Regions from separate parts of the Homo sapiens genome. Here region 1 is linked to region 2. The links come from fine-mapping of genetic effects on gene expression. A gene starts in region 2. The other region holds a variant in brackets. All regions are shown on one strand. Distances are from middle to middle.

Region 1 (5,371 bases), 35 kb before region 2:
CTTGAGGTCCAGGCCCAGAACTGGCAGAGTGTCATTTCTAGTGCTTTCTGTTGGTCAAGGCAAGTCACAGGGCCAGCCCAGACTCAAGGGGAGGGGAAACAGACTCTACCCCTGGCTGAGTGGTGTGACTTGCACATGTGGTGAGGGGAGAAATTGATGGGCACCATCTGTGGGGACTGTCAGGGCACTCAGACTTCTGGCTGCCTATAGAGAGTAGAGAGTATAGAATTAGTGAGGGGAAACAGGATGGGAGCTAGGGAAGAACGAAACAGGACAAAGGTTTAGCTCAGACCTCTGAGGAAGACCTAGTGTCATGAAGTAAGGAATATGACCAATCTAACCTTTGTGTCTGAGGTACAAATAAACCCCAAATCAAAATCAACCAAATAAGGCCGGGCGCGATGGCTCACGCCTATAATCCCAGCACTTTGGGAGTTTGAGATGGGCGGATCACCTGAGGTCAGGAGTTCAAGACCAGCCTGGCCAACATGGTGAAAATACAAATAATTAGCCGGGCGTGGTGGTGCATGCCTGTAATCCCAGCTACTCAGGAGGCTGAGGCAGGAGAATCACTTGAACCCGGGAGGTGGAGGTTGCAGTGAGCTGAGATCGCGCCATTGCATTCCAGCCTGGGTGACAAGAGTGAAACTCTGTCTCAAAAAAAAAAAAAAAAAAAATCAATCAAAGAAAATAGGATTCCATAACCCAAAACAGAAAACCTCCAACAATATGGAAACTTCAGAAATAGTCCAAGTACATGTTAACTTCTAAGTTAAAATGATTTTCAAATAGGGAGAAAGAGAAGGACGCAGATGAGTCTGGCTTTCTCTGTCCCTTCTCTCCCTGTAGTGCCGTGAGTGGGGGTGTAAGTGACAAGCCCTGAAACGTGGAATTGGTTCAGTCAAAGGGGTGGCCAATGAGGATGGCCCCATCCCTGGTTGGCAGTTGGCAAAGCTTGACATGCAGTAGACAATCCATCTGTGAAGCTCTTACCTGTATCTCAGGACTAAATCCACATGCCCCTTAAGATGGGGGCTTCACAGCAGTGTTGTTCAGACTTTGAGTTGTGACCCATTAATGGACTGGGAAACTCAACAGAAGGCACGTAGTAAGGTGAGCATTGTCCCATCAAACTTTAGTGTCAACCGTGTATTTCCAAACGCATTATTCTATTCACTCACTCACTCAGTAGATACTTGTTGAGCAGCTACTGTGTGGCAGGCACTGGGGATCCAGGAGAAAGTAACACATACAAATGCACCTGTGTGTGCGGGTGCTTGTGTGTATGTTCTGGATCACAGCATGAAATTCGTCTCTCGCTGTGGGCTGCAGTCAGAGAGCCCAGCGGCTGCTGCTGCCTGGTGGCTGGGTGGGAATGTCAGGGTACTGGGGGGGTGGCTACTTCCCATGTGGGTCAGCAAGTTACAAGAACAGAAAAGGCCTCTGTTTGAATTCCTTTTCGGCACCCGGGGAAACGAGCAGCTTTATAAGAAACCCTGCCCGTAGCCATCCGCCCAAGTTTGGTGAGGGTCAGAAAATCATGCACAAAAACTGTGTTTTCTTTCCCGAGCTATTGTTAGCGCAAGTGTAGACAGTCAGCCACGTTCCTTGCTTCATGGAAGCCAGTCTTCCTCGTAGGACCATGAAGACCTTTTCTTTTCTTTTTCTTTCTTTCTTTTTTTTTTCTTTGAGATGGAGTTTCTCTCTTGTTGCCCAGGCTGGAGTGCAATGGCGCAATCTTGGCTAATGCAACCTCCGCCTCCCAGGTTCAATCGATTCTCCTGCCTCAGCGTCCTGAGTAGCTGGGATTACAGGCCCCTGCCACCACGCCCGGCTAATTTTTGTATTTTAGTAGAGACAGAGTTTCACCATGTTGGCCAGGCTGGTCTCGAACTCCTGACCTCAGGTGATCCACCCACGTCGGCTTCCCAAAATGCTGGGATTACAGGCGTGAGCCACCGTGCCCGGCCAGACCTTTTGTTATGATGTTATTTTCCCCTCTTTACTCCATTTTGCTTTGCCAGTTTCTCTACTCACCTGGGCCACCACCTAGAGCAAGTTGCCTCATCTCTCCGAGGCTCCGCTTCCGAACCCTGTGAAATGGGAGTAACAGAAGTCCTGCCTCGTGGGGGTGTTGTGCTGTGATAAATGAAGAAACACCTTGGAGAATTTAGGGCAGTGGCTGGGCCTGAGGACAGTGTTTGTGTTGCCTGGGCTGGGGCAGGGTCTGGGCCGGACGGGGCTCTCTGAGGTTGGATTCCTCCTGCGAGGAGAGCTGTTTTTCTGCAAAGCCCCTTCCTCCTCCTGCTGAAGCTTCTGGATTTGAGAGGCTTTACTCTCCAGGAGAGTGAAGCGAGTTGGGCCAGAGCTGAGAGTCTGGTGGCCGAGCCCACAGGAAGCTGGGGTCTGTGGTTCAGATGCCGGATTGGGCAAGAGTAGAGAACTGGTCGCTGTGATCCTGGTCAGGGATATTTGGAGACACCCACAGTTCTGGTAAATTCGGAGGCAGGAAGTGAGAGGGGGAGGGAGAGAGGGAAACGGCAAACTGCACCCCAGCCCCTCCTGGCCTGGCACCCCTTCCAAATGGTGCAATGAGTGGGGTGAGTGGCGTGTGGAGTTGAGCGCAGCCCAGGGGACCCCCCTCTCTGGGAATAAGAACAGAGATAGCCCCGTCCCCTGCCCCCACCCCACAAATGAGTTACAGCTCTGTTTCCTCTTCTGTTTACTGTCCAAAGTCCCAGGCCAGGAGGTGCCAGGTTAGAGCTTGGACACTCAGACCCTCCAGTGCAGGCCTTGCCCGGACCAGCCCCTCCTCCACTCTCCTCTCCCCTGTGAGCTCCACCTGCCCCAGTTCTCCTGG[C/A]TTTAACCCCTCCTTGGCCAAGGCCAGGGTTGCCTGCGGGAGCCAGGTGTCCGCTCTCCACACCTTTCACAGGTAACTGAGGCTGGGGAGGCAACTGGGACGAGGATGCTTGGGAACAAGGAGGCCTTGGTTCAGGGATGGGGAGGACCCCATGGGAAGCTGTGGGTGGTCGGGTCCATGAGCGTGGGGAGGGGTCTCCTGGCCAGGTCAAGGCCCAAGCGGTCTCCTGAGAAGGGAAAGGACCCAGCGGGATTTCAAACCTCATCCCAAACGCCCTGCCAACCTCAGATCCTACCCAGGCCACCACCCCGAACCCCTCCGACCCTGCGTTCCATCCCACCATCAACCTCCACGTGAATCTGCACCTCTGCCCCAGCCCCAGCCCTCAGAGCAACCTCAGCCCAGCCCAGCCCAGCTCCAGCTCCAGCTCCAGCCCGGGCCCCATCATGGCCAAGGACTTTCAAGATATCCAGCAGCTGAGCTCGGAGGAAAATGACCATCCTTTCCATCAAGGTGAGGGGCCAGGCACTCGCAGGCTGAATCCCAGGAGAGGAAATCCATTTTTGAAAGGCAAGTGTGCAGTTTCTGCGGCTTTGCTCCCCCTCTGTCTCAGCTCATGATTGCTCTGTCCCTTTGAGGTCTCTGCCGCACCCACTCTGTGAACAGGGACTGAGGAGGGCCCGACACCCCCGCTTGTTCCCTCACCTCACCTTCCTGTCTACCCCAGGACCCCAGGAAAGGCATGTGCCAGAGGTGTGGGGAGATCTGGAAGATAACTGCCTGCCCTTCTCCTCCCAACCCAAGAACACATGTGCCTCGTATGTGCGTGTGCACGTATGTGCATATGAGGAATGCAGATTCAGCTGGGACTCTGTGTGTGTGTGTGAGTGAATGTTGTGTGTGTGTATATGTGCGCGAGAGCGTGCATATGTTGTGTGTGTGTATGTCGTGTATGTGAGAGGGTATGTTGTGTGTGAGAGTGTGTTGTGTGTGTATGTTGTGTGAGTATATGTTGTGTGTATCTTGTGTGTGAGTGTATGTTGTGTGTTGTGTGTGTATCTTGTGCATGTGTGTATGTTGTGCGAGTGTATGTTGTGTATGTGAGTGTGTGTATGTTGTGTGTATGTTGTGTGTATGTATGTTGTGTATGAGTGTGTGTATGTTGTGTGTGTGTACGTTGTGTATGTTGTGTGTGTGTTGTGTGTGTGTATTGTGTGAGTGTATGTATGTTTGTGTGTTGTGTGAGTGTTGTGTATGTTGTGCGTGTGTGTATGTTGTGCGAGTGTGTGTGTTGTGTGTGTATGTTGTGAGTGTGTTATGTATGTTGTGTGTGTGAGTGTGTTGCGTGAGTGTGTGTGTTAGTGTGTGTATGTGATTGTATGTGTGTGTGTGTGTGTGTGTAGAGGTGGGGTGAGTTGGGATGGGTGGGGGACGTGAGCACAGAGAGATCCTGGAAGATCCCTGCTCCTCTCATCTCCCAAGACCCTTCCCTGGATCCTTCTGTAATAAATCTTGACTGAAGGACCTAAGTATCTTGGACATTTTTTTTTTAGAGACAGGAGTGTAGTGGCAGGATCATAGCTCACTGCAACCTCGAACTCCTGGGCTCAAGCCATCCTCCCACCTCAGCCTCCCAAGTAGTTAGGACTTACAGGTGTGCACCACTGTGCCTGGCAAATTAAAAAAAATTTTTTAGAGAAATGGGGTCTTGCTATGTTGCCCAGGCTGGTGGGAAAAGATTTTAAGGTGAGAGAGATCTGAGCAGTGCTAGGCAGAAGGGCAAGAGCCAGGAATGGAGGAGTGTCAGGTGTGTGGGTGCTGGTGGTGGAGCCGGGTTCCATGGAGGCAGGAGGAGCAGGGGCTTGGAGCTTAGGAAGGGGATTGGTTAGCTGGGCTGGAATGAGGGACTCCTCATTCCTGAGGCTGGCCAACCGAGGGAGGGCCGGTGCTGGGCAGGGCAGGGCAGGGGACAGGAGGGATAGGAGGTCCCTCCCGAGGACCACTCAGGAACACCAGTAGCATCTCCTCTCTCTGTAGGGGGCTGGCTGGACTTCCCACCAGGCGGTGTCCCCACAGGCAGAGGCCCTGTCCGCCTCACTCTCCTCTGCAACTCCAGTGCCCACACGGCACCCGGTACATAGTGAACACTCAGAGAGAATACGGGATGCTGCTGAATCTTCTGAGGGTGACAGAATTTAGAGTTTGAGCAGGAGGCTTGGAGAGAGGCCAGGATTTCTGAAATTAATGGGAGAGTGAGCTCACGCGAATGGGCTGAGGGACACCAGTGAGGGACCGTCTGAAGGGATGTAGCAAAGTCACCGCATTTCCCTCCAGCAGCCCGGGTGGTGGGGGCTGGGGGAACGTCATCATGGGAGCTGACACTGATCAGCTGCTCACCGGGGCCCATCTTCCACTTGTCTCAGCACTTGATTTTTTTCTGCTACCCCCTTTTTCTTTTAAAGATTTCAATTATGCATGTATTAAGGGTCCCACAGCTCACTCATTCTCTTT
Region 2 (5,371 bases):
ATGTGTATAAGAGTGATTGGACGTATGTTTATTGCAGAACTATTTACAATAGGAAAGACTTGGAACCAACCCAAATGCCCATCAATGATAGACTGGATAAGGAAATTGTGGCACATATACACCATGGAATACTATGCAGCCATAAAAAAGAATGAGTTCATGTCCTTTGCAGGGACATAGATGAAGCTGGAAACCATCATTCTCAGCAAAGTAACACAGGAACAGAACACCAAACACCGCATGTTCTCACTCATAACCGGGAGCTGAACAATGAGAACACATGGATACAGGGAGGGGAACATCACACACCAGGGTCTGTCAGGGGGTGGGCGGCAAGGGGAGGGAGAGCATTAGGACAAATACCTAATGTATGCGGGCCTTAAAACCTAGGTGATGGGTTGATAGGTGCAGCAAACCACCATGGCACACGTATACCTACGTAACAAACCTGCACATTCTGCACATGTATCCCAGAACTAAAAAAAAAAAAAGAAGCTTCAAACCCACTGAACCAGACTGAAAAAAAAAAGTTAGTGAATGGAGAAATATCATGTTCTTTTCATGGAAGATTCAACAATGTCAAAATGTTGATTATCTCCAAATTAATATGTGAATACACTGCAAGACTGTGGTAGACACACAGAGAGCTACCCAGGTCCCCCTTCTAGGAAGGATGTGGTGACCCACTGTGGGGAGTGTAACCTGCAGACAGCTGCTTCCTGAGGTCACACCCATGTCAGGGCTGACTGCCAGTGACCGAAGGAGCTGGTGCTCTACAGGACCCTGTGGCAGTCCAATGCTGGACAGCTCCCGGGGGTGGCATTGTTTGAACCCAGAGCTCCCTGTTGGTTTGGTTGAAGCTCTCCAAAGTGCTGGGCTTCTCCCTCTGCCCAGCACCATTTCATCCACTTTCCTTTTCGAAGTGCTAATCCCTAATAAATAGCTTGTACCCCAAATTCAGCCTCAACCTTGGCTTCCAAAAACCGAACCTGCGACATATACTAATCAAAATACCGAATACCAAATAAAAACAAAACTGGCAACGACCTGGCCGGGTGCGGTGGCTCGCGCCTGTAATCCCTGCACTTTGGGAGGCTGAGGCGGGCAGATCATGTGAGGTCAGGAGGTCAAGACCAGCCTGGCCAATATGGTGAAACCCCTCTCTACTAAAAATACAAGAATTAGCTGGGTGTGGTGGCGGGACCTGTAATCTCGGCTACTCGGGAGGCTGAGGCAGGAGAATCGCTTAAACCCAGGAGATGCAGTAGCCGAGATTGTGTCACTGCACTCCAGCCTGGGCAACAGAGTGAGACTCTGTCTCAAAAAAATAAATAAATAAATAAAATAAAAAAGAAAAGAAAAAGAAACAACTTAAATTTCTGATTTATTTCTGTCAATAGAGAAATGCTAAATAAATAAATTACGGTGCCTATGATGAAATGAGGTGCAGGTAGATCAAGTACATTTTATAAACTGATGTGGAGAAATGTTCCTGATAGCTTGTTAACTCCAAAAAAAAAAAAAAAAAGCACATAGCAGAACACAACCCCATGTACATACAAAATATAACCTAAAATGTATTTCTTCTCCTTCTCCACCTTGTAAGATACTCAGTTTCCTTCCTACTGAAAGGGATGTGCGCGTGGATTCAGGGCAGCTCCCTTAGGGGTTGAGCAGGGATCATGGGATGAAATGGAATCCTGTTCATGAAGACAGCGCCTGTGCTGAGAGCCAGAGCAGGGTGCCAAACTGTCTCCTTACAAGCTGTGAGTGATCTTGGGCTCTGAGCCTTTAGTCCGTCATCCAAAATGCCTCCCCAGGTGCTTGGGGGGAATGGTTGTGGAAGGTAAATGTCTGGCATAATCCTATCACAGATTACTCAATAAAATTTGCTCTTTTCCTTGGCTTCTCCCGTCCTATTAGGGCCAAGAAGTTCTATTCTCTGGCACCCCCTTCCCTCCTTCCGAGTGGAGTGAGGCGAGCGAGGCCACAGCTGAGCAGCCGAATGACTGGGACCCAGAGGATGCTGATGCCAGGGACTCAGGCCAGGATTGAGCAAGAGAACAGACTGGGCTTCTCTAGGATCAGAGGTGCGATGATGGAGACCCAACAATTCTGGGAAATGTAGAGGCAGGAAGTGAAAGGAAGTGTAGGGTAGAGGAGCAACAGCAGATTGTACCTCTGATCCAGCCCTGCTCCCAGATGGTAAAAATGAGGAAGCTCCGAGAAGAGGAAAGGAAGTAGGCATGGCCTGGAGGAGGAGAACAGAGCTGGCCTCAAACCCAACTCTCCCCACCCACACATGGTCTCTGTGTGTTCTAATCCCTGTTCATTCTCATTTACTGTCTAAAGTTGAGGAGATGGGATGTCCCAGATGATAGGGCTCCTGGGATTTCAGACCCAAGACCAGCAGGACTCCAGTCACCTCTACCCCAGCTCTCCAGGACACAGCGCTCCCAACTCTGAGTGACGTCCCACCTCTGGTCCTTGCAGCACAACCAACGTGGGAATCACACCCTCCAGACCTCCCACAGGTAATGGTGCTGCCGGTGCCGGTGAGACCCAGGGGACAGGGGATGTCAGAGGAAGCAGGGAGAGGGGGACTTTGGGTCTTGGGTGGGACTAAATGAAAATAAATATAAGGCGGCAGTGTGGGGTTTAATTACTACGTGGAGATTTGAGACTCTGTTCCCTTCACTGGATTCTAGATTGGGTTACGGCAGCCACAATCCCCTGTCATAAACTAAGACTCCGGGAGCTGAGGCAGGAGAATCTTGTGAACCCAGGAGGCAGAGGTTGCAGTGAGCCGAGACGGCCTCGTTGCACAACAGCCTGGGCGACAAGAACGAAATTCCATCTCAAAAAATAAATAAATAAAAATAAAAATAAACTAAGACTCAGACTCAGCCTCATTGGTGGCCCATTTCCAGCCTTATCTTCATCTCAGCCCAGCCATGCCCTAATCCCAATACTAACCCCAGCTTCTACATTTTCTTTTTTTTTGAGACTGAGTCTCACTGTGTCGTCCAGGCTGGAGTGCAACGGCACAACCTCGGCTCACTGCCACCTCTGCCTCCTGGGTTCAAGTGATTCTCCTGCCTCAGCCTCCCAAGTAGCTGGGATTACAGGCGCACACCACCACACCCAGCTAATTTTTGTATTTTTAGTAGAGATGGGGTTTCACCATGTTGGCCAGGCCGGTCTCAAACTCCTGACCTAAAGTGATCTGTCTGCTTCGGTCTCCCAAAGTGCTGGGATTTATAGGCGTGAGCCACCGCACCTGTCGCCCCCCACCCAGCTCCTACTTCAACCCCAACCCCAGAATCAACTTGAATTTTAACACCAGCCCAAAGCCAAAATTGAACCTCGACTCTATTCTGTTTCCAAATTCACCACCAAAGTTAACCCCAATTCCATCCATGGCTCCAACGTGCATACTGACCCCAATCCTAGCATGAGATACAACCTCCAGTCCTGCCTGATTAACTGGCCCACTGGGTAGTCCTAGCAATGCGTTTAGCTCCAACGTTACCCTCCAGTTTCACTCCCAAACTCAACTCGACCCCAATTCTAACTCGACTGCAAACCCAGGCTCATTTCCGTCTTAACCCTGGGCTCATTCTCAACCTGAGCCTCATCTCCCAACTCAACGTCAGCCCTGCCCTTGGCTCCAACTTAGTCCCAACCTCCTATTCCCCAGCTCCACCCCAGACTGGGCGCCGGCCCTGCCTCCATTTCAGCTGTGACAACCTCAGAGCCGTGTTGGCCCAAGCATGACAAGGACGTATGAAAACTTCCAGTACTTGGAGAATAAGGTGAAAGTCCAGGGGTTTAAAAATGGTAAGAGGAAAGGGGAAACTCTCCTAAAATGCCCTCTTTATATGTTTAGAAGGATTTCTCCTATCATTTCTGTACCTCCACCACGCGCACTGGTGGGTCCTAACTCTGAGGAGGTCAGGCCCCAGCCTCTGACGGGCCTAGTGTGAAGAGGATGCAAGGTCTCTAGAAAGACTGGGACAGGGAGGATCACAGTGGACCCAGCTTCTGATGCTCTGTGGGGTGGGGATGAGAGCTGCGCATTGGTGGAGGGAAAGATAAGTAGTTGGGTTTGGAAGGAAACTCATTTGTGAACCTGATTGTCCAGCAGGTAGGTGAGCATAAGCCCATGAAGGGCTGGCTGCCCCCAGCTCTCCCTGTGTCCTCCTGCCCCTGCCCCCAGCTCTGACCATGGGACCCCTCATATCGCTATCACGTGGGTCCCCAGGGGTGTGAGGGGCCTGTGTGACTGAGGACTTGTGCTGGTCCCTGAAGTCAAAGGCCTGGGCATCCCCCACCCCAAAATCCTCCTTGTCCAACCCTCCCCTGGAGTCCCCTGTGCCCAGCCCTCCTCACTAGACAGCTCCCTGGGCCCTCTCCTTCTCCCGTCTCCGGTGTCTGGACCCTCCTCATCCTGACACTCTCTCCTCTTGCAGGGCCACTTCCTCTCCAGTCCCTCCTGCAGCGTCTCTGCTCTGGGCCCTGCCATCTCCTGCTGTCCCTGGGCCTCGGCCTCCTGCTGCTGGTCATCATCTGTGTGGTTGGATTCCAAAGTGAGGGTCACAGGGGTGGACAGGGAAGAGAGAAATAATGGGGTAGAAGATAAATAATGGGGTGCTACAGTAGGGCAGTGGTGGGGCGATGGTGAGGTCCACAGTAGGAGCAATGCAGGGCACAGTGTTGGGGGCAGCTGTGGAGATAACAATGGGGCATGGTGAGGGCAGTGCTACCAACAGTCATGGGGGTCACAACAGAGCCACTGAAGCACTGATGGGGCACTGATGGAGTGATTGATGGGAATGGAGGAGAGGGCACTGATGGAGTGATTGATGGTAACGGTAGGGGGGCACTGATGGAGTGATTGATGGGGACGGTGGTGGGGGCACAGACGGAGTGATTTATGGGAATGGTGGGGGGCATTGATGGAGTGATTGATGGGAATGGTTGGGGGTCACTGATGGAGTCATTGATGGGAATGGTGGGGGGGCACTGATGGAGTGATTGATAGGAACGGTGGGGGGTCACTGATGGGGTGATTGATGGGAATGGTGGTGGGGGTCACTGATGGAGTGATTGTTGGGAATGGTGGGGGGCACTGATGCAGTGATCGATGGGAATGGTGATGGGAGCACTGATGGGGTGACTGATGGGAATAGTGGGGGGCACTGATGGAGTGATTGATGAGAACAGTGGTCGGAGCACTGATGGAGTGATTGATGGGAATGGTGATGGGGGCACTGATGGAGTGATTGATGGGAATGGTGGGGGGGCACTGATGGAGTGATTGATGGGGACGGTGGTGGGGGTAGTGATGGAGAGAGTTGACGGACCCATA

Evidence for each region.
Region 1: its variant is fine-mapped to the expression of CLEC10A in whole blood (TOPMed, PIP 0.93).

The regions. Positions count from the first base shown.
Region 1 is chr17:7,112,176-7,117,546 of GRCh38, reverse strand. ASGR2 (asialoglycoprotein receptor 2) reads left to right here and starts at 2,725. Exons shown (of 9, transcript NM_001201352.2): 1 at 2,725-2,932; 2 at 3,237-3,430. The coding sequence starts at 3,307. RefSeq lists enhancers at 1,787-2,573, 4,379-4,879. The variant C/A (reference allele first, on the strand shown) is at 2,861.
Region 2 is chr17:7,077,215-7,082,585 of GRCh38, reverse strand. It overlaps CLEC10A (C-type lectin domain containing 10A), which reads left to right and starts at 2,335. Exons shown (of 9, transcript NM_001330070.2): 1 at 2,335-2,534; 2 at 3,701-3,840; 3 at 4,473-4,589. The coding sequence starts at 3,774.